Homo sapiens: one gene and its partners. The protein of the gene in region 1 purifies or fractionates together with the protein of each later gene. This does not show direct contact. Each region holds a gene or a part of one and is shown on either strand. Other genes may lie near its edges.

The links. Proteins that work in one complex are often made in the same cells at the same time.
Region 2: the proteins of SLC43A2 (region 1) and TMEM70 purify together in Homo sapiens (affinity purification with mass spectrometry; one large-scale study listed by BioGRID and IntAct). This does not show direct contact.
Region 3: the proteins of SLC43A2 (region 1) and CPT1A purify together in Homo sapiens (affinity purification with mass spectrometry; one large-scale study listed by BioGRID and IntAct). This does not show direct contact.
Region 4: the proteins of SLC43A2 (region 1) and PCYOX1 purify together in Homo sapiens (affinity purification with mass spectrometry; one large-scale study listed by BioGRID and IntAct). This does not show direct contact.

The regions. Positions count from the first base shown.
Region 1 is NC_000017.11:1,614,569-1,619,439, forward strand, and holds part of SLC43A2 (large neutral amino acids transporter small subunit 4), read right to left. Parts: intron 2,202-4,871; coding exon 1,994-2,201; intron 1,728-1,993; exon of another isoform or gene 1,624-1,727; intron 467-1,623; coding exon 411-466; intron 1-410.
Region 2 is NC_000008.11:73,978,260-73,983,717, forward strand, and holds the end of TMEM70 (transmembrane protein 70, mitochondrial), read left to right. Parts: intron 1-496; coding exon 497-602; coding exon of another isoform or gene 603-610; exon of another isoform or gene 611-616; intron 617-819; exon of another isoform or gene 820-912; intron 913-2,895; coding exon 2,896-3,362; 3' UTR 3,363-4,524; downstream 4,525-5,458. UniProt on the Homo sapiens protein: Scaffold protein that participates in the c-ring assembly of mitochondrial ATP synthase (F(1)F(0) ATP synthase or complex V) by facilitating the membrane insertion and oligomer formation of the subunit c/ATP5MC1 through its interaction.
Region 3 is NC_000011.10:68,831,483-68,836,351, reverse strand, and holds part of CPT1A (carnitine O-palmitoyltransferase 1, liver isoform), read left to right. Parts: intron 1-4,869. UniProt on the Homo sapiens protein: Catalyzes the transfer of the acyl group of long-chain fatty acid-CoA conjugates onto carnitine, an essential step for the mitochondrial uptake of long-chain fatty acids and their subsequent beta-oxidation in the mitochondrion.
Region 4 is NC_000002.12:70,260,202-70,265,070, reverse strand, and holds part of PCYOX1 (prenylcysteine oxidase 1 precursor), read right to left. Parts: intron 3,860-4,869; coding exon 3,685-3,859; intron 1-3,684. UniProt on the Homo sapiens protein: Prenylcysteine oxidase that cleaves the thioether bond of prenyl-L-cysteines, such as farnesylcysteine and geranylgeranylcysteine. Only active against free prenylcysteines and not prenylcysteine residues within prenylated proteins or peptides.

The sequences.
Region 1 (4,871 bases):
CTTGAACAGGGTTGGGGACCAGGTGGCTTCTAAGCCATCCTTCATGCTTTGGCCTGTGCTGCCTGGAGGGGACTCAGCTTGTGACTTCTGCACACACCGATGACCATGCCCCTGCAGCCGGCCTGGTTCTTAGAACTTGCCTCTCAGGTTGGCATCAGTGAGGGACTGGCTTGGTTTGGTGATGAGATGGAAGTTGCTCATACCCTGGAAGCTCCTGTCTGGGGTGGCTGCTCTCTGATCTCGCCGTCTATTTGAGATAAGTAACTGAGTAGAGGCGTAACAGGTGTCCCCTCTAACTTGAGCAGGGAGCAGCAGGCCCAGGACAGTGTCCAAGAGCAGGTGGGCCTGGGAGCAGCTCAGGGCACTCTCTCCCCGGTCCCTGACAGAAGATGGAGGGAGAGGACACTCACCGTTTGGTTTACTTGCTCCGTACGCAATCAGCAAGCAGGAAACCGCGAAGCAGGCGCTAAAACCAAGCAGAAACGCAATGTTATTTACCATTATGACTTTATTCAGTGTTATTGTTTTGTTTTTGTTTTTGGTTTTTGGTTTTTCTTGAGACAGAGCCTTGCTCTGTCACCCGGGCTGGAGTGCAGTGGCGCGATCTCGGCTCACTGCAACCTCCGCCTCCCAGGTTCAAGCATTTCTCCTGCCTCAGCCTCCCAAGTAGCTGGGATATTACAGGCGCCCACCACCACGCGTGGCTAATTTTTTTATTTTTAGTGGAGACAGGGTTTCACCATGTTGGCCAGGCTGGTCTCGAACTCCTGGCCTCAGGTGACCCACCCAACTCTGCCTCCCAAAAAGCTGGGATTACCAGTGTAAGCCACCGTGCCCAGCCCATTTTCATTTATATTTTTGTATATGTATTATAAAGCACATTAAGAATGGCATAGGGGGCCGGGAGCCACTGCACTCCAGCTCCAGTTGCTTGGGCAACAACAGCAAAACTCCAACTCAAAAGGAAAAAAAAAAAAAAAAGAATGGCATAGGGGCCAGGCACGATGGCTCACGCCTGTAATCCCAGCACTTTGGGAGGCCGAGGCGGGCAGATCACAAGGTCAGGAGATCGAGACCATCCTGGCTAACACAGTGAAACCCCGTCTCTACTAAAAATACAAAAAATTAGCCGGGCGTGGTGGCAGGCGCCTGTGGTCCCAGCTACTCGGGAGGCTGAGGCAGGAGAATAGCGTGAACCCGGGAGGCGGAGCTCGCAGTGAGCCGAGATCGCGCCGCTGCACTCTAGCCTGGGCGACAGAGGGAGACTCCATCTCAATAAATAAATAAATAAATAAATAAATAAATAAATATGAAAAATATAAAAATTAGCTGGGTGTGGTGGCAGGCGCCTGTAATCCCAGCTACTCGGGAGGGTGAGACAGGAGAATTGCTTGAACTGGGGAGGCAGAGGTTGCCGTGAGCCGAGATCACGCCACTGCACTCCAGCCTGGGCGACACAGCAAGACTCCGTCTTGAAAAAAAAAAAAAAAAAAAGAGCACAGATATACATCATTTATAATTCCATGTGCTTATTATATTGGGGGTACGTGTTGAAAATCTTTTTTCTGGTGGAGCTATAAGGTCAAACGGGCTGTGGAAACCAGTGTTGTTGGTTTTTTTTCTCATCAGATGGATACTGTGCCAGCTTCGTAACAAGGTTTGAGGGAAGCATGTCTCACACATGCGAGGGAAACCCCAATTATCATGCTTATGAACTACAAAGGGATGGGAAACACATGTTCTTAGTGACAAGCAGCTCCGGTCCCTGGGCGGCCTGGAGCCTGGAGCTTTTCTTATTCGGTACTGGAGCACGGCGAGGACCACAGTACCTGCTGATTCGGTGGCGGACGGGGTAGGAACTCCATTCTGGAGGGCCTTCAGGGAGCTCCACAGTACACCTGATATCAGGTACGACCAGGATACCCTTCTGTGGGGAACTCAGCCCAGGGGGTCCACCTGCCCACTCCCTGCCCCCTAAGGGACCCACACTGACCTGCCCAGCAGCCTGAGCTTCCTCGGGCCATACTTGTCCATGACGATACCCAGGGGCAGGGTGATGGCACTGAGCAGAAAGGAGCCCACAGTGAAGGCCAAATTTAGCATCTCGTCCTGGGCCTGGCAGCTGAGCCAGCCGTTCATCCAGCTCACCTCCTCGTGCCCCGGCTCTGCTGTGCCGCCCACTGTGCCATTGGTGACATTCTCTGTGTGAAGAGGGAAGGAAACCCTGACCTCAGGGTCATGACAGGGATTCCCAAAGATCAGAAGGGCAGGTGCCCATTCAGAGTCCCCCCACTGGGAATGCCAGGGCTGGCTGGCGGCCTCTCGAGGGCTCAGGCTACCCCGCAGCAGGCTTGGATGGCCATTTGGCCCAAGTCCCCTGGAGTGAAAATGTAGAGGTTCTTAACTTTTGTGGGGGCCATGGACCCTTTGAAAAATCCAATAAAGACCTCCCCAGAAAATGCACACCAAGGTTTATCCACAGTTTCAGGAGCTTTGTGTGTCCCTTGAAGAGCAACGAAGCCCAGGCTGAGAGTCCCATTCGAGAGCATCCGCCACCCTAGAACGGCAGACCTCAGGGCCCAGCCTTGGCTGTGGGGCCCCAGGCTGGTGAGAACCTTCTCACGGCAGCTATGTCCGTGGGGACAGACTGCAGCCAGTATGGAGGCAGAACCCAGACCACTTGGGAAGCACAAGCACTGGTCTCACCCCAATAGCCTGGTTCTCCTCTGTCCATGTGGGGAGACTGCGGCGCCTCCTTCAATGGGAAGTCCAGCTGCCTTCTCAAACATAGAACAGATGCCACCTTCTCCCCCTGATATTTTCTTTTTCTTTTTTTTTTTGAGGCGGAGTCTCACTCTGTTGCCCAGGCTGGAGTGCAGTAGCACGATCTCGGCTCACTGCAACCTCCGCCTCCCGGGTTCAAGCAATTCTCCTGCCTCAGCCTCCCGAGTAGCTGGGATTACAGGCACCTGCCACCGCGCCCGGCTAGTGTTTGTATTTTTAGTAAAGATGGGGTTTCATCATGTTGCCCAGGCTGGTCTCGAACTCCTGACCTCAGGTGATCCTCTCACCTCTGCCTCCCAAAGTGCTGGGATCACAGGCGTGAGCCGCCACACCCAGCCGATATGCACCTTTCTTATTTTCCTTGCCGGGGTCACAGTGGTGCCATCCCGTGGCCATGCCTAGACCTCGCTGGGTGCTGAGTCTGGTGTGTTTGCCACACCCAGCCCTTAATGGCCCCCTTCAAAGTCCACCCAGCACCAAAACAACACAGAAAGGAAGAGAAAAGTGCTGTGGCAGCTGAAGATGGGAGGGTGGAGGACGGGCTGGGAACGTGGCTGAGGAGCTCTCCTGGCCGGGACTGCTAGTTAAGAGATGCTGACTAATCCTGCAGAAAACAGGAGCCGACTTTGATTAGACATGAGGTCACGCTGGGAGAGTCAAGGAAACGCTCTTCTTCCGGTAACTGCCTGCCTTCCAATTGCAGCCCTCTGGCGCCAGGGCTGTAGCGCCGAGGTTTGCAAAAGCTTGCTCAGGCCTCTCGGGGTTCCTCCAAGGTTACTGGAAAGGATGCGCACAGGTGGACTCGTGCTTCATGCCAACGTGTGGCCAAGGAGCCCCGCCGGGGCCGTGTGGATGAAGAGCGTGGAACTGGAATCTGGTTTCTAGCTTCCAGTGTTTGATTCTCCACTTTCTACCTGCATGACCTTGCTCTAGCTCAGTTTCCTTGTCCATAACATGGACATCATATAATGATAAGATCCACCTCCTAGAGTGTGGGGGAAGATCAATGAGAAAAATTCAGAAAACCTTCTGGAGCTCACCCAGGCATAGAAAGCACTCAATAATGAATAGCTACAAGTTGCTGCTGTTCTCGTGGTTATCATGATCATTGCTGCTATTGGAGGCTCCGGCGGGGAATCACGGCACCATCAGCTGGCACAGAGCCGGATGCAGTGGCTGTGGGGAGCACAGTCCCGTCAGCGTGTGTGGAAGCGCAAAGACATGTCTAATCCCCCACTGGGCTGTGAGCCCCGAAGGGCAGGGCCTGCACTGTGGTCACTTCTGTGTCCCCAGTATCTCACCCAGGTCTTGGCCTACAATAGCTGTTTACTGAATAAATAAAAACAACAGGGCCAGGTGTGGCGGCTCATGCCTGTAATCCCAGCACTTTGGGAGGCAGAGGCGGGTGGATCGCCCGAGGTCAGGAGTTCAAGACCAGCCTGGCCAACATGGTGAAGCCCCGTCTCTACTAAAAATTCAAAAATTAGCCAGGCATGGTGGCGCATGCCTGTAATCCCAGCTACTCAGGAGGCTGAGGCAAGAGAATCATTGAACCCGGTAAACGGAGGCTGCAGTGAGCCAAGATCACACACCACTGCACTCCAGCCTGGGCAAATAGTTAGACTCTGTCTCAAAAAAAACAAAAAACAAACAAACAAACAAACAGAATCAGGCCGGGTACAGTGGCTCAGTCTGTAATCCCAGCCCTTCGGGAGGCCAAGGTGGGTGGATCACCTAAGGCCAGGAGTTCAAGACCAGCCTGGCCAATATGGTGAAACCCCATCTCTACTAAAAATACAAAAATTAGCCGGGCATGGTGGGCGTCTATAATCACAGCTACTCGGGAGGCTGAGACAGGAGAATTGCTTGAAGCCGGGAGGCGGAGGTTGTGGTAAGCTGAGATCACACCACTGCACTCCAGCCTGGGCAACAGAGTGAGACCCCGTCTCGAAAAACAAAACAGAACAAAACAAAACAAAAACAATGGCACCAGATCACAATGGCCAAAAAGATCGAGAGAGGAATCAACAGAACCACGTTGAATCGAGGGGGGATTTAAGGAGATCAGAGCCACGAGGTTAACCATG
Region 2 (5,458 bases), on another chromosome or scaffold:
CATTTTTAGTAGAGACGGGGTTTCACCATGTTGGCCAGGCTGGTCTTGAACTCCTGACCTCAAGTGATCCGCCCCCCTCGGCCTCCCAAAGTGCTGGGATTACAGGCATGAGCCACTGCACCTGCATTACAATTTTAAAAATAAACTTAAGCTGGGCATGGTGGCTCATGCCTGTAATCCCAGCACTTTGGGAGGCCAAGGTGGCAGATCACTTGAGGTCAAGAGTTCAAGACCAGTCTGGCCAACATGGTGAAACCCCGTCTCTAATAAAAATACAGAAATTAGCCGGGTGTGGTGGTGGGCACCTGTAATCCCAGCTACTCAGGAGACTGAGGCAGGAGAATTGCTTGAACCCGGGAAGCAGAGGTTGCAATGGTGAGCTGAGATCGCACCACTGCCCTCCAGTCTGGGAGACAGAGCAAGACTCTGTCTCAAAAAAAAAAACTTAAAAAAATTTAAGAAGGTTAGTTGACCATAATGATCCCTGTTTCAATAGATCCCTGTTTATTGGGAAGGATATGTTCGATTCTTAAATACGCCATCTGACAAATCAGAAGATGGAAGGCTAATTTATACTGGCAATATGGCCCGAGCAGTGTTTGGTAAGTAATTGGAGGTGGGTGTACTTACTTTGTTTTTTTCTCTTTTAATTGTAAAAATATCCTTACCATATCTTACTTGTTGTTATGGCATCCCTTAATTACAAGACGTAAGGAAAATTAGATTTTCATTTTTTTTTCTTGAGGTGTGTTGATAAGATGTAGAGACCTTTGCATTTTTAGATTTTTATTTGAGACAGAGTCTCACTCTGTTGTCCAGGCTGGAGTGCAGTGGCATGATCTTGGTTCACCATACTCTTCGCCTCCCATGTTCAAGCGATTCTCCTGGCTCAGCCTCCTGCTGGGATTACAGGTATGCACCACCACACTTGGCCAATTTTTGTATTTTTAGTAGAGACAGGGTTTCACCATGTTGGTCAGGCTGGTCTTGAACTCCTCACTTCAAGTAACCCACCCACCTCGGCCTCCCAAAGTATTGGGATTACAGGCGTGAGCCACCACGCCCGGCCTCTATTATGTTTTAATATTTCGAAGGGGTAACTTCCCCTCATTGCTTTATTTTTTTATTTTTTGCTGCTTTTGTTTTTCCAAATAAACTTTATAATCAACTTGTTTAGGATCTCAACTTTATTTTCCAAACAGATGGTATTTTTTATTAGGATCGTATTAAAATTATAAATTAAAGGTAAGGTAAATTTACATTTTAAGTCATTTTTTATTGTGGTTAGATAAACATAAAATTTTTCACTTTAATCATTTTGAAGTATACAGTTTAGAAGCCATTTTTTAAAAATAATTTTTATTTTTTAGAGACAGGGTCTCTGTCATCTAGGCTGGAGTGCAGTGGTGTGATCATAGTTCACTGCAACTTCAAACTTGTGGGCTCGAGTGATCCTCCCACCTCAGCCTCCCAAATAGCTAGGACTACAGACATGTGCCACTACACCTGGCTGATTTTTTTTTTTTTAAGCTAGTCAAATTTAGCAGTGGGGACATTGTATACCAACTTTAGTGATGCCAGTGTTAAGTTCTGATAACTCATTACCATCAGACCAGCCTTGGCTAATTAAAAAAAATTTTTTTTGTAGAGACAGGTCTTCCTATGGTGCCTAGGCTGGTCTCAAACTGGTCTCAAGCAGTCCTTCTGCCTACACCTTCCAAAGTGCTGAGATTACAGGCATGAGCCACTGCACTCTGCTAGAAGTCATTTATTTTTAATCTTTCTAAGGTAATAGGTAAAAATGGTATCTCAGTGTTTTTTTTGTATTTTTTATTATTTATTTATTGAGACGGAGTTTTGCTCTTGTTGCCCAGGCTGGAGTGCAGTGGCACAATCTGGGCTCACTGCAACCTCCACCTCCCAGGTTCAAGCAATTCTCCTGCCTCAGCACCCCCAGTAGCTGGGATTATAGGTGCATGCCACCAAGCCTGGCTAATTTTTGTATTTTTAGTAGAGACAGGATTTCGCCATGCTGGCCAGGCTGCTTATCTCATTGTTTTAACTTGAATGTCTTTCCTTACTAAAGAAATTGAATACCTTTCCCATATGTTTCTGTTTTTTTTTTTTGAGATGGAGTCTCGCTTTGTCTCCCAAGCTGGAGTGCAGTGTGCAGTCTTGGCTCACTGCAGCCTCTACCTCCTGGGTTCAAGGATTTTCCTGCCTCAGCCTCCTGAATAGCTGGGATTACAAGCACTTGCCACCATGCCCAGCTAATTTTTGTATTGTTAGTAGAGATGGGAGTTTCACCATGTTGGCCAGGCTGGTCTCGAACTCCTAACCTCAAATGACCCACCTGCCTCAGCCTCCCAAAGTGCTGGGATTACAGGCATGAGCCAATGCGCCTGGCCGTCCGATATGTTTTTTAACCACTGGTTTTATTTCTCTGGTGATTTGCTGTTTTAATCCTGGGCACTTAGCCTGATAGAATTTCCCATGTTTGAATATTTTATGTTAGATATACTGGAGTGCTTGTTAATAGAGAGTTTTGTTTGATAATCTGCTATCTGAATCAACTTTTGTAGTACAATATTAGTAAGGATCTTTAAGTAATATTAACTACTTTATTGTGGAACTGAGGTAGGGCCACTTAAACCCTAAAGCAGATTTCCTGCCTGGAGAGGCAGTGCATTCTAATGGTCAGTAGCAGGGACATTGAAGTCAAAATATGTAAAGTCCTTAAAACAGAGCTTAGAATATAATAAGCACTGTATTTATGGTTTGATTTTGTTGTCTTGAGCTGATACAGTAAGAAGAAAAATGGAAGAATTAGTGGGATAGATTGATTCTTTTATAAAATTTAAAAGTATTGATCCTCTCTCTTTTTTTCCCATTTAGGTGTGAAATGTTTCTCTTATTCTACGAGTCTGATTGGCCTTACATTTCTGCCATACATTTTTACACAAAATAATGCTATTTCTGAAAGTGTGCCTCTGCCTATTCAAATCATATTCTATGGCATCATGGGAAGCTTTACGGTGATCACCCCAGTGCTGCTTCACTTTATTACAAAAGGCTATGTCATTCGATTGTACCATGAGGCCACAACAGACACTTATAAAGCCATTACCTACAATGCTATGCTTGCAGAAACGAGTACAGTGTTTCACCAGAATGATGTGAAGATTCCAGATGCTAAACATGTATTTACCACATTTTATGCTAAAACAAAATCACTGTTAGTTAATCCAGTGCTCTTTCCAAACCGTGAAGACTATATCCATCTAATGGGTTATGACAAAGAAGAATTTATTTTGTATATGGAAGAAACCAGTGAAGAGAAACGGCATAAAGATGACAAATGAGCCTATTTGTTAGTGTTCGTGCTCAAATGTGATTTACGTTTTAATGTATAATAATAAAATTGCCTTTTGCATTCCGTTAGTGACTGATTGTTAAAAATAATTTGAAATTATCAAAGCTTTTAATTTCCAGAGAATGATGTTTGTTTATAATAAAACAAGCTATGTTTGAAAACCAAAATGTAGTATCTACCATTCGTGTTTTAGAAAGGTATGTGAATAAATATGTTCATGCTAGTATAAGAGTTCTGTGTTACTGTGGTTGACTCTAAACTGGGGATCTGATGTCAGTAGCAAATGGGAGAGTTGCTTTATTCTTTGTGTATGGATTTTTCTAAGTGTATAAATATTTTCCGACATTAAAAGACATTTTCTCTTTGAGGAAGACACAGTCATAGGTGGTGCGGAGCTGTGGTCCACCTGCTCCTGCTCCTGACTCACTGCTCTTTGCTGTTGCCTGAGGACCAAGTCTGTCAGGAAGCTGGCTAGGAAGCCTTGCAGCAGCCATGGCTTTTAAACATACCAGAAAAACACCCGTGGAGTCAGAGGTGGCAATTCACCGAATTCATATCACTCTAACGAGTTGCAACGTAAAATCCCTGGATAAGGTGTGTGCTGACTTGATCTGAGGAGCAAAGGAAAAGAATCAGTGAAAGGACCAGTTTGAATGCCTACCAAGACTTTGAGAATCACTACAAGAAAAACTTACGGTGAAGGTTCTAAGGCATGGGATCGTTTCCAGATGAGAATCCACAAGCGACTCATTGACTTGCGCAGTCCTCAGATAGTTAAGCAGATTACTTCCATCAGTATTGAGCCAGGAGTTGAGATGGAAGTCACCATTGCAAATGCTTAAGTCAACTGTTTTCATAAATTGATTACCAGTTGTTAAAAAATTTTCAAAAAACCGCAAAATTTCAAGAAATTCACAAATTATGGGAGCAGTTTTAAGTCTTCTTTGGTTCAGAACACAGGTTTTTGCCTAACCCCTGGCATGATTGCCCATAAGAACATACATGTACAGTTGAACTGGTGGTTAGCTATACGGGAAATGGTAAGTAGTGTTGTCTTCAGTATCTTAATTTGTTTCTGCAACTGTGCACTCCTCCCTTGGTGGCACCCTATGGGTGTAGGAAAACCACTGTTATTAAACAGGTGAAAAATACCTTGTGTAAAATTGCTGTCTCTATGCTAGCTTTGTCAAGAATATCCATTGTAAGATTTTTACCTCTATTGTAAAGTGGAGATTGACTCTTGCCAAGGATTTTTAGCCAGGAACAAGAGGCCTCAAACCACACTATTTAGATCAGTAGATATTTACTAAGTGCCCAGTACTGTGCTAGTTACTAAGATCACAGTTAAGAATGAAACACCCCGTCTGTCTTTATGGAGCTACCTAACATTGTCTATGGCCACCATGATAGTAAATTTAAACTTTATGGCGTACATGTGTATGAGGGAGGTTGATGGGGAAGCAGCAGGAACATCTGTTCAAAGAGATCATTCAACTCCCAGGCTGCTCGAAACTTATTCATAGGAGATAAGACAGAAAAGCTGTCTTTCTGAGACGTAGAGCCTGCCCTCTGCTTGGATTGTCCAGCTCACCAGACTGAGAATTCCCACCGCCATTCCTCTGTGCCATCTTCTGCTCAAGGTGGGTTTTTGCCTGCTTGCTTCTCTGTCCTTTGTCCCCTAGATGTATCCTAGCAATGAATGAGAGATGTGTTTCTATTTTTTTCATAGCAACCTACTAGATAAGGGAAGCTTGTCCAGCCTGCAGCCCAGGACGGCTTTGAATGTGGCCCAACACAAATTCGTAAACTTAAATTTTATTTTTGAGATTTTTTTTTTAAGCTCATCACTATCATTAGTATATTTTATGTGTGGCCCAAGACAATTCTTCCAACGTGGCCCAGGGAAGCCAAAAGATTGGACACCCCTAAGATAAGAGATATCTTTCTATAGAAAGTTATTCTATGATCAAATGTTTATTATGGATACATTAGAAAGTAGAAGGAAGAAAGAGGCTGGGTGTGGTGGCTCTTGCCTGTAATCCCAGCTACTTGGGGGGCTGAGGTGGGAGACTCGCTTGAACCTGG
Region 3 (4,869 bases), on another chromosome or scaffold:
GCATATGCCACCACACCTAGCTAATTTTTTATATTTTTTTGTAGAGACAGGCCTCACTATGTTGCCCAGGCTGGTCTTGAACTCCTGGCCTTAAGTGACCCTTTCACCTTGGCCTTGCAAAGCGTTGGGATTCCAGGCATGAGCCACCACGCCGGGCTTCCTGGTTTCTTTATACTTCTTCAAATACACACAGTGGCTCAATGTGATGTCCAGTACAGTTTGCACAAAATACAACCACAGATTGCTAAAAGGTATACATCGAAGTCAGAAGGTATCAAATGCTGGCATTGAGATTTGGCATGGGGTGGGGGTGCAACAGGTAGGAAGAGAAATCCACATTCCTAGAGGGTTTGCATTGGCACCACAGGGCTACAGTTGGAAAGGGACAAAGAACGTGTTCCTGCAGTAAAGACCTAACAGGTGTCAGAGCTGGCTGCCACGTCCTCCTGCAGTTTGCCGGAGGAGGTAAGGGCATCCTGCATACTTTATGTGAGGCAAATACTTGCTCAAGGTCACAGGTCTGAGTAATTGGTAGAGCTGGGATTTGAACCCAGATCTGTGTGTTTTCTTTCCCTTTCCCAGGCTGCTTCCCAGACCACTGGGCAGCCAGAGGGCCTGGGTTTTGGAGGCCCCCACTCCCTACCCCATGCAGACTGGGTGTGGCACTGAATCCGCCTCTAGGGTTTCTGGGTTTCCATTTCCTCATCTGTAAGGTGGTGGGTCTGAACCTGTCATTCCATGTCACACGAGTTTTGTGAGGATCCAATCAGAGGTCAGATGTGAAGAGAGTTTTGAGTGTGTAAAGTAAATACAGGCTCTAGCAAACAATGTCCTGGCTGCAGGCGGCATTTAGGGACACCAATGTATTTTGCAGTCCCCACATTAGAAGTTCAGTTCAAGTTCAGTTTGAATTAGAAGTTCAAGTTGTTATATTCTGTGCAAAGGTGAAGAATATGCATGGGAGATACAGGGGACACCGCTCCTGTTGTCTTAGGGACATTTGTGGGAACAATATACTGGTACGAAGAGGAGGTTTAGGATGTCCTTTGGGCAGGTGCAGGTCTCCTCCTTGCAGTCTGAGCTCCTGCCCGAGTGCCGATGCTGGCTAGAGGCAGGGCAGGCACAGTGGGAAAGAAGTAGCAGCTGTTAAACTTCTGGTGGGCTTCTGAATAGCTAGGTCAGATAACTGGGTCTGTCAATACGTTGGCTATCTTCTTTATAAAATTGTGAATCTTTGTGGCTTTTCCAAATTTTTTTTCTAAGATCATATTTGTCTGTATTTATCTAACCATTACTTATTGACGTGGTGCACTATAAGGTCTAAATTTGAATTGGCTTAATTTTTTTTTTTTTGAGATGGAGTCTCGCCCTATCGCCCGGGCTGGAGTGCAGTGGCGCAATCATGGCTCACTGCAACCTCCGCCTCCCCAGTTCAAGCAATTCTCCTGCCTCAGCCTCCCGAGTAGCTGAGATTACAGGCATGCACCACCATGCCCAGGTAGTTTTTGTTTGTTAGTAGAGACAGGGTTTCATCATGTTGGCCAGGCTGGTCTCAAACTCCTGACCTCAAGTGATCCACCCAGAATTGGCTTAATTTTTACAGTACTTGGTAAGACAGGGTCTCGCTCTGTCATCCAGGCTAGAGTGCAGTGGCGTGATCATAGCTCACTATAACCTCAAACTCCTGGGCTCGAGTGATACTCGCAAGTAGCTGGGACCACAGGCATGCACTACCCACACCTTGGCTAATTTTTGTATTTTTTGTAGAGATGGGGTCTTGCTACATTGCCCAGATTGGTCTCAAATACCTGGGCTCAAGCGAACTTCCTGCCTTCGCCTGCCAAAGTATTGGGATTACAGGCATGAGCCACCATACCCAGTCCAGAATTCCTTTTATTTTATTATTTTTATTTTTTGAGACGAAGTCTCCCTCTGTCACCCAGGCTGGGGTGCAGTGGCATGATCTCGGCTCACTGCAACCTCTGCCTCCCGGGTTCAAGCGATTCTCCTGCCTCAGCCTCCCGAATAGCTGGATTACAAGTGCCCACCACCACACCTGGCTAATTTTTGTATTTTTACTAGAGATGAGGTTTTGCCACGTTGGCCAGGCTGGTCTTGAACTCCTGACCTCAGGTGATCCACACGCCTCAGCCTCCCAAAGTGCTGGGATTATAGGCATGAGCCACCGTGCCCAGCCCAGAATTCCTTTTATAACCTGACGACCCATTATATTGACCCCATAAATGTGAATAGTCCATTATGATAAACTTCAGTACAGGAAATCCACTGTGTGGCCAATTTAAATAATGTGAATATTGAATGATCAGTCATGAATTCAAGACGCAACCTTTCATAATGAAAGCTCCAGGCTGGGTGTAGTGGAGCACACCTGTAGTCCCAGCTTAGGCTGAGGCAAGATGATCTCTTGAGCCAGGAGTTCAAGGTCACGCTCGGCAACAGAACAAGACCCTGTCTTATAAAAAAAAAATAATAATGAAAATCCTTCACCTTTCTTGTACATGAAACCCTCCGAAAAACATAAGGTGAGTCTTACATTCTCACTTCTAAGGTGCTTCCATCAGGTTTGGGAAACAATTTCTTTTTTTTTTTCTTTTTTGAGATGGAGTTTCGCTCTTGTTGCCCAGGCTGGAGTGCGGTGGTGGGACCTTGGCTCACTGCAACCTCCACCAACCAGGTTCAAGCAATTCTCCTGCTACAGGTGCCCACCACCACACCCAGCTAATGTTTTGTATTTTTAGTAGAGATGGGGTTTCACCATGTTGGCCAGGCTGGTTTTGAACTCCTGGCCTCAGGTGATCCGCCCACCTTGGCCTCCCAAAGTGCTGGGATTACAGGCGTGAGCCAACACGCCCAGCCAAGTTTGGGAAACAACTTCTGTTTGTGTGTATACACATTTACTGGAAAAGTACAAGGGCACCATTACAGATGTGCATATCTGCAATTGAATAACGATGTGGCTCATACAGTGCAGAGAGCGCACACCCACACTTGCCTGGAGAAGAGGAGCTGCTGCTTTTCTTCCTTCCCATTATTGCTAATTTTTGCCTGCATCTCAGTTCAGAAGAGCCATGAACTTTACTGCACATGTGTGCTAGTTCTAGGGAACCCCCTGGGCTGCTGCTGTCCTTCCAGAGCCTTCCTGGTACTTCCCTTGAAGTTCTTTGGGCAGCAGTGAGGAGGCCAGGCCAGATTTTTGCCACCTTGGACATCATGCATGTTGTGAAGGTGGTTTCCCCGAGCTGGAGCCAGTCCCGGAGGCTGGCACTAGCTTTCTAGCGAAGCAGAATCTTCCCAGGCATTGGTCACCCGGGCATCCAAGAATGTGTTGTAGATGATGAGATAACTGCCCTGCCCTTCGCCAGAGACACTGCTTCTGACCCTGCCTACAGCGCCTTCTCCAGTTTTTCCAGGGATGAGGCCCATGTCATCCAGCCTCACACTTTCTCTGTTCCTAGAGGCCCTGCCTGGTATTCCTGCTGAGCTAAGCTGTCGCTTCCCATGGGTAACATTTTCTCAGAGGATTTCCAACATAGTTGTTTACCGCTGGAGGAGATGGGCAGCTGTTAGCTAGGTTTGAATAGAAAGCAGAGCCTGCTCCTGTGTGCATGGGCACTGTGCAATGCTAGTGGGAAGACTGCAGCATGTGAATAATTTTACAGTTGGCACTGATGGTGTTTATACTTACTGGAGTTTTATTGCTGGCTGCAATCTCATCATTTTGGTTACAACAGTGACCTAATTTTATATCTGTGTTGTAACTTTAGGAATCCTAAGTAGAACTTTTTGTGTAGTACCTACCACTTTACTTTGGGAGTTAAGAGTATAAGTTTTGGAGTTGGACCTGGGTTTTTGTTTGTTTGTTTGTTTGTTTGTTTGTTTTTGAGACAGAGTCTCGCTCTGTCACCCAGGCTGGAGTGCAGTGGTGCAATCTTGGCTCACTGCAACCTCCACCTGCCAGGTTCAAGAAATTCTCCTGTCTCAGTTTCCCTAGTATCTGGGACTACGGGTGCATGCCACCAAGCCCAGCTAATTTTTTGTATTTTTAGTAGAGACAGGGTTTCACCATATTGGTCAGGCTGGTCTCGAACTCTTGAGCTCAGGTGATCTGTCCGCCTTGGCCTGCCAAAGTGCTGGGATTAGAGGCGTGAGCCACCGCACCTGGCCTGGGCCTGGGTTTGATTTCCAGCCCTGCTATTTGCTGGCTGTGACACTGGGCAAGTTTCTTGACATCTAAGCCCTGGTTTTCTCATTAGTACATGGAGATAGCCCTAGTACCCATTTCCTAGGGTGCTAGTGGGAATTAAATGATCTAATGCTAGTCAAATACATCAATATAAAAATATATATGGGTCACATTGTCTAGCATATGCCAAAGGGTTTGGTAAAAAGAATGTTCTGGGTCGGGCACAGTGGCTCATGCCTGTAATCCCAGCACTTTAGGAGGCCAAGGCAGACGGATCGCTTGGGGTCAGGAGTTCGAGACCAGCCTGGTCAACATGGTAAAAACCCATCTCTACTAAAAATACAAAATTAGCCAGGCGTGGTGGTGCGTGCCTGTAATTCCAGCTCCTGGGAAGGCTGAGGCAGGAGAATCACTTGAACCCAGGAGGCAGAGGTTGCTGTGAGCCGAGATCATGTCATTGCACTCCAGCCTGGGTGATGGAGCAAAACTTCGTCTCAAAAAAAAAAAAAAGGAATGTGCTGTAACTTCATTATTAAAAGCACAAAAAGGAATCTTTATGTCTTACCTACCTACCTTCCCACACACCTATCTATTAGTATCTCCATACGTGTTGATTGCAAGGCTGTGTTGAAAGACTTCTGCCCCACTCAGAAATTATTTACATA
Region 4 (4,869 bases), on another chromosome or scaffold:
AATGAATGCACTGTTTTCGAGTATTGCCTACCACAAGCTTGAGCCCTCTTTCGAGTGTCATGGTTTACTACTGTTACATAGGTCTTTCTCCACCTTGTGTATACTTTGATCTTGGCTCACCACAACCTCCGCTTCCTGGGTTCAAGCGATTCTACTGCCTCAGCCTCCCAAGTAGCTGGCATTAGCTGCGCCTCCACACCCAGCTAATTTTTGTATTTTTAGCAAGGCGGAGTTTCACCATGTTGGCCAGGCTGGTCTCGAACTCCTGACCTCAAGATCTATCTGCCTTGGCCTCCCAAAGTGCTGGGATTACAGGCGTGTGCCACCGCGCCCGGCCCGTAAATTATTTTTTAAAGTCAAAAACAGTATAACCTATGTATCCCCTCACTGGTTCTTTTTCCCAGTTCTGTAATACCTTGAATTCACTTCAAAAGTGATTTCTTAGGCCAGGTGCGGTGGCTCATGCCTGTAATCGCAGCACTTTAGGAGGCCAAGGCGGGCAGATCAATTAAGGCCAGGAGTTTGAGACCAGCCTAGCCAACATGGTAAAACCCCATCTCTACTAAAAATAAAAAAATTATCTGGGTATGGTGGCACATGCCTGTAATCCCAGCTACTCAGGAGGCTGAGGCAGGAGAATCGCTTGGACTCAGGAGGCAGAGGTTGCAGTGAGCCGAGATTGCACCACTGCACTCCAGCCTGGGTGACAGAGTGAAACTCATCTCAAAAAAAAAAAAGTAATTTCTTAATTTCTCAAAGGGCAATTCTCTACATCTCAAGCAAGCCACAGATAAAAAAAAAAACAAGGCTGGGAACAGGAGCTCACAACCGTAATCCCAACACTTTGGGAGGCCCAGGTGAGTGGAACACTCGAGCCCAGGAATTCAAGACCAGCCTGGGCAACATGGCCAAACCTCATCTCTACAAAAAAAATACAAAAAATTAGCCAGATCTGATGGCACGTGCCTGTAGTCCCAGCTACACAGAGGCTAAGGTAGGCAGATCCCCTGAGCCCAGGAGGTCCAGGCTGCAGTGAGCCATGATCACACCACTGCACTCCAGCCTGGGTGACAGAGTGAGACCTGTATCAAAAAAAAAAAAAAAAAAAAGAGGGCCGGGCACAGTGGCTCACGCCTATAATCCCAACACTTTGGGAAGCCGAGACAGGCAGATCACAAGGTCAGGAGTTTGAGACCAGCCTGGCTAACACGGTGAAACCACATCTCTACTAAAAATACAAAAAATTAACCAGGCATGGTGGCATGTGCCTGTAGTCCCAGCTACTCAGGAGGCTGAGGCAGGAGAATCACTTGAACCTGGGAGGCAGATGTTGCAGTAAGCCGAGATCCCGCCACTGCACTCCAGCCTGGGCGACAAAACGAGACTCTATCTCAAAAAAAAAAAAGAAAAGAAAAGAAAAACAATACACACAAGCAGGGCTGATGCCATCAGAACTTGATCTGCCTGCTGAGTATGCAGCACCATGCCACCCACCTTCTATAAAGTGACTGGCCGTCTCTACGCAAATTCTATATATTTCCTTGGTTGTGTATTGCCTGTCTCTCCACTAGAATATATATTCTTTGAGGACAAGGACATGTTGTAGGTCCTATACTCTCAACATAGAACAATGCCTAGCACCTAACAGGTATTCAATATTGGGTGAATGAATGAATGGCTACTTAAAAACATTATGCACTGTAGATGGACTTAAGGTACCCACGGGAAAGGCATTTAAGGAACTGACCTAAGAATGATGTTGAGAAAGAAAGAAACCCCAAACTACCATGAGTTATAGAAACCAGAGCATATCCTGCTTAGCTTTCTTTTTTTTTTTTTTAGACAGTCTGGCTCTGTCCCCCAGGCTAGAGTGTAATGGCACGATCGTGGCTCACTGCAACCTCTGCCTCCCAGGTTCAAGTGATTCTCCTGCCTCAGGCTCACAAGTAGCTGGGATTACAGGCATGCACCACCACGCCGGCTAAATTTTTATATTTTTTGTAGAGACAGGGTTTTACCATGTTGGTCAGGCTGGTCTCAAACTCCTGACCTCAGGTGATCCACCAGCCTCAGCCTCCCAAAATTCTGGGATTAGAGGCATAAGCCACTGTGCCCAGCCCTGCTTAACTCATATTTGTCCTGTTCAATACCTGGTCATATGACATGTTTTGTTTTGTTTTGTTTTTCCCCTCAAGATGGAATCTTGTTCTGTCACCCAGGCTGGAGTGTAATGATGCGATCCTGGCCTCCAGTACCTAAAACTGTAAAGCAGCATAAAAATTAGCATGTGCTAGCCGGGCACAGTGGCTCATGCCTGCAATCCCAACACTTTGGGAGGCTGAGGCAGGCGGATCACGAGGTCAGGAGATCAAGACCATCCTGGCTAACACAGTGAAACCCCGTCTCTACTAAAAATACAAAAAATTAGCCAGGCACAGTGGCAGGCACCTGTAATCCCAGCTATTCGGGAGTCTGAGGCAGGAGAATCGCTTGAACCAGGGAGGCAGAGGTTGCAGTGAGCCGAGATGGTGCCACTGCACTCCAGCCCGGGCGACAGAGCAAAACTCCATCTCAAAAAAAAAAAAAAAAAAAATTAGCACATGCCGGCCAAGCTCGGTAGCTCACACCTGTAATCCCAGCACTTTGGGAGGCCGAGGCAGGTGGATCACCTGAGGTCAGGAGTTCGAGACCAGCCTGGCCAAGAGGGTGAAACCCCATCTCTACTAAAAATACAAAAATTAGCTGGGCGTGGTGGCAGGCATCTGTAATCCCAGCTACTCGGGAGCCTGAGGCAGGAGTATCGCTTGAACCCAAGAGGCAGAGGTTGCAGTGAGCCAATATCGAACCATTGCACTCCAGCCTAGGCAACAAGCGAAACTCCATCTCAAAAACAAAAAAACAAAAAAACTAAAAAACTAGAACATGCCAACAGCTTTAAAAATACAGATTGTACCTTTCAAAATTAGACTGGCTATTTTATGTTAGTCTTCCTGATTACCAAAGTGATACATATTCACACGCATTAAAAAAACTGTTTAAATATAGAAAAGCATAAGGACGAAAAAGAGGCACCTGAATTCTCACTACCCAAAACAGTGCTAGAATGTAAATTCTTGGAATATGGAACTTTTACTCTACTTCAGGCTGCTGGTTCACTGAAAACATGTCACTATTAAAGGCCATTTAAGTTTTCTGATCCTTTCTACAAGCTCTTGTACACATTATCTCAATTCATATACACAACACCAGCACAGCATAGAGATTAAGAGTGAAGACTCAAAGGCCAGACTGCCTGGGTGGCAACTCCAGCTATACCACTTACTATGTGGGTGAACTTGCCTTTTAAAACCTCTCTACACCGCCACCTTCTGCATCTGTTTAAAGAAGCTAAAAACAGTACCTACCAGAGTAAGTTGTCATAAGAATTCAAGGCATCTAACAGTATCTGGCAACACTAAAGAAGCATTTGCAAAATACACTTCAGAAGCAAAAATAAACCAACCTTTCAATATCCAAGCAAATAGTCTGCATAGTTTCTACAAAACATTTTGCCTAACAATGTTATAAACAGGCCTTGCTGTGAGGTAGAAAATGCTTACAAGAAATCATAATTCCTAAAGTTCATCAAGTTTAATTTAACCTAAATTAAAAGATCTTAGGTTAAATGGAAGGAAAAAAAATTACCTCATGAACTTGTCTAACACGTCCTCTACCCACATGTGCATACGGAGGGATTGAAATCCATAGCGCCAAACTAATTTAATCACGTTAATTATGAACCAGTTGCTCTCCTCAAATACCAGAGTCTCTCCATTATATATCCCCAGTAGGCCACCAGAGGCCTGAACAGCAGAGAGACCTGCAAAAACATAAAGCACAGCTAAGTCAGTGGTGTCTATGCTGATCAAATGAAAGAACGTAATCTGAGTGAATTTGGGGCTTCCCTCAGTTCTCAGGAGACACATAAAGGAGCTCTATCTTTGGAACAGTGTGAAACACTATACTTTCACTACACTGTCCAAAAGCAGATTTGCTAGGCGATGGGTCAGATGATCATGTAAATATTAATATATCAAAAGTAGATATATTTTTACCTGGCTATTTTTAGACTAAAAGTCTAAAAAAACTGGATAGTCAAAGGAAAAAAGCCAGAGTACCAACTGAATTCAATTTAAAAACAAAGATGTCAGACATGCATCTTCGTGGCATAATTTGTTCTGGGTATACCTTCGCCCTCGTGGAGGAAACGGAAGCAGAGGCAGCATCTACAGAGGATGTGGAAGGCAGCTGAGGCACTTCCATTCCTGTGAGAATCCTATTTTGCAAAACTGGATATTTCAGATAACTGGAAGGAGGCCAAAGTTACAAAATACTCCCTGCCGAAAGGGCCTCCAGAGGCCTGTCAGACTTTCCCCATGACCTATCCAGCTCCTCTGCTGTCAGGGCAGCAGTTGCACATCCCAAGTTCTAGGCACGTGTCTGCATCCACAGCTGTGTGACGGAGTTTGTTTTGTTGGTGGTGGTTTGTTTTGATAGGGTCTCACTTTGTTGCCCAGGCTGGAGTGCAGTGGCATGCAAGGCTCACTGCAGCTTCTATCTCCCAGGCTCAAGGGATCCTCCTGCCTCTGCCTCCCAAGAAGCTGGGACTACAGGTTTGTGCCATCACACCAGGCTAACTTTTTTATTTTTAGTAAAGACAGGATCTCACTATGTTGCCCAGACTGGTTTCTAACTCCTGGGCTCAAGTGATCCTCTGCCTCGGCCTCCCAAAGTGCTGGGATTACAGGCATGAGCCACTGACCCTGGCCATGGCCATATGTGAGTGACTTTGAGCCAGACAATTCAAGTCTCTGGGTCTCATTTACTCAG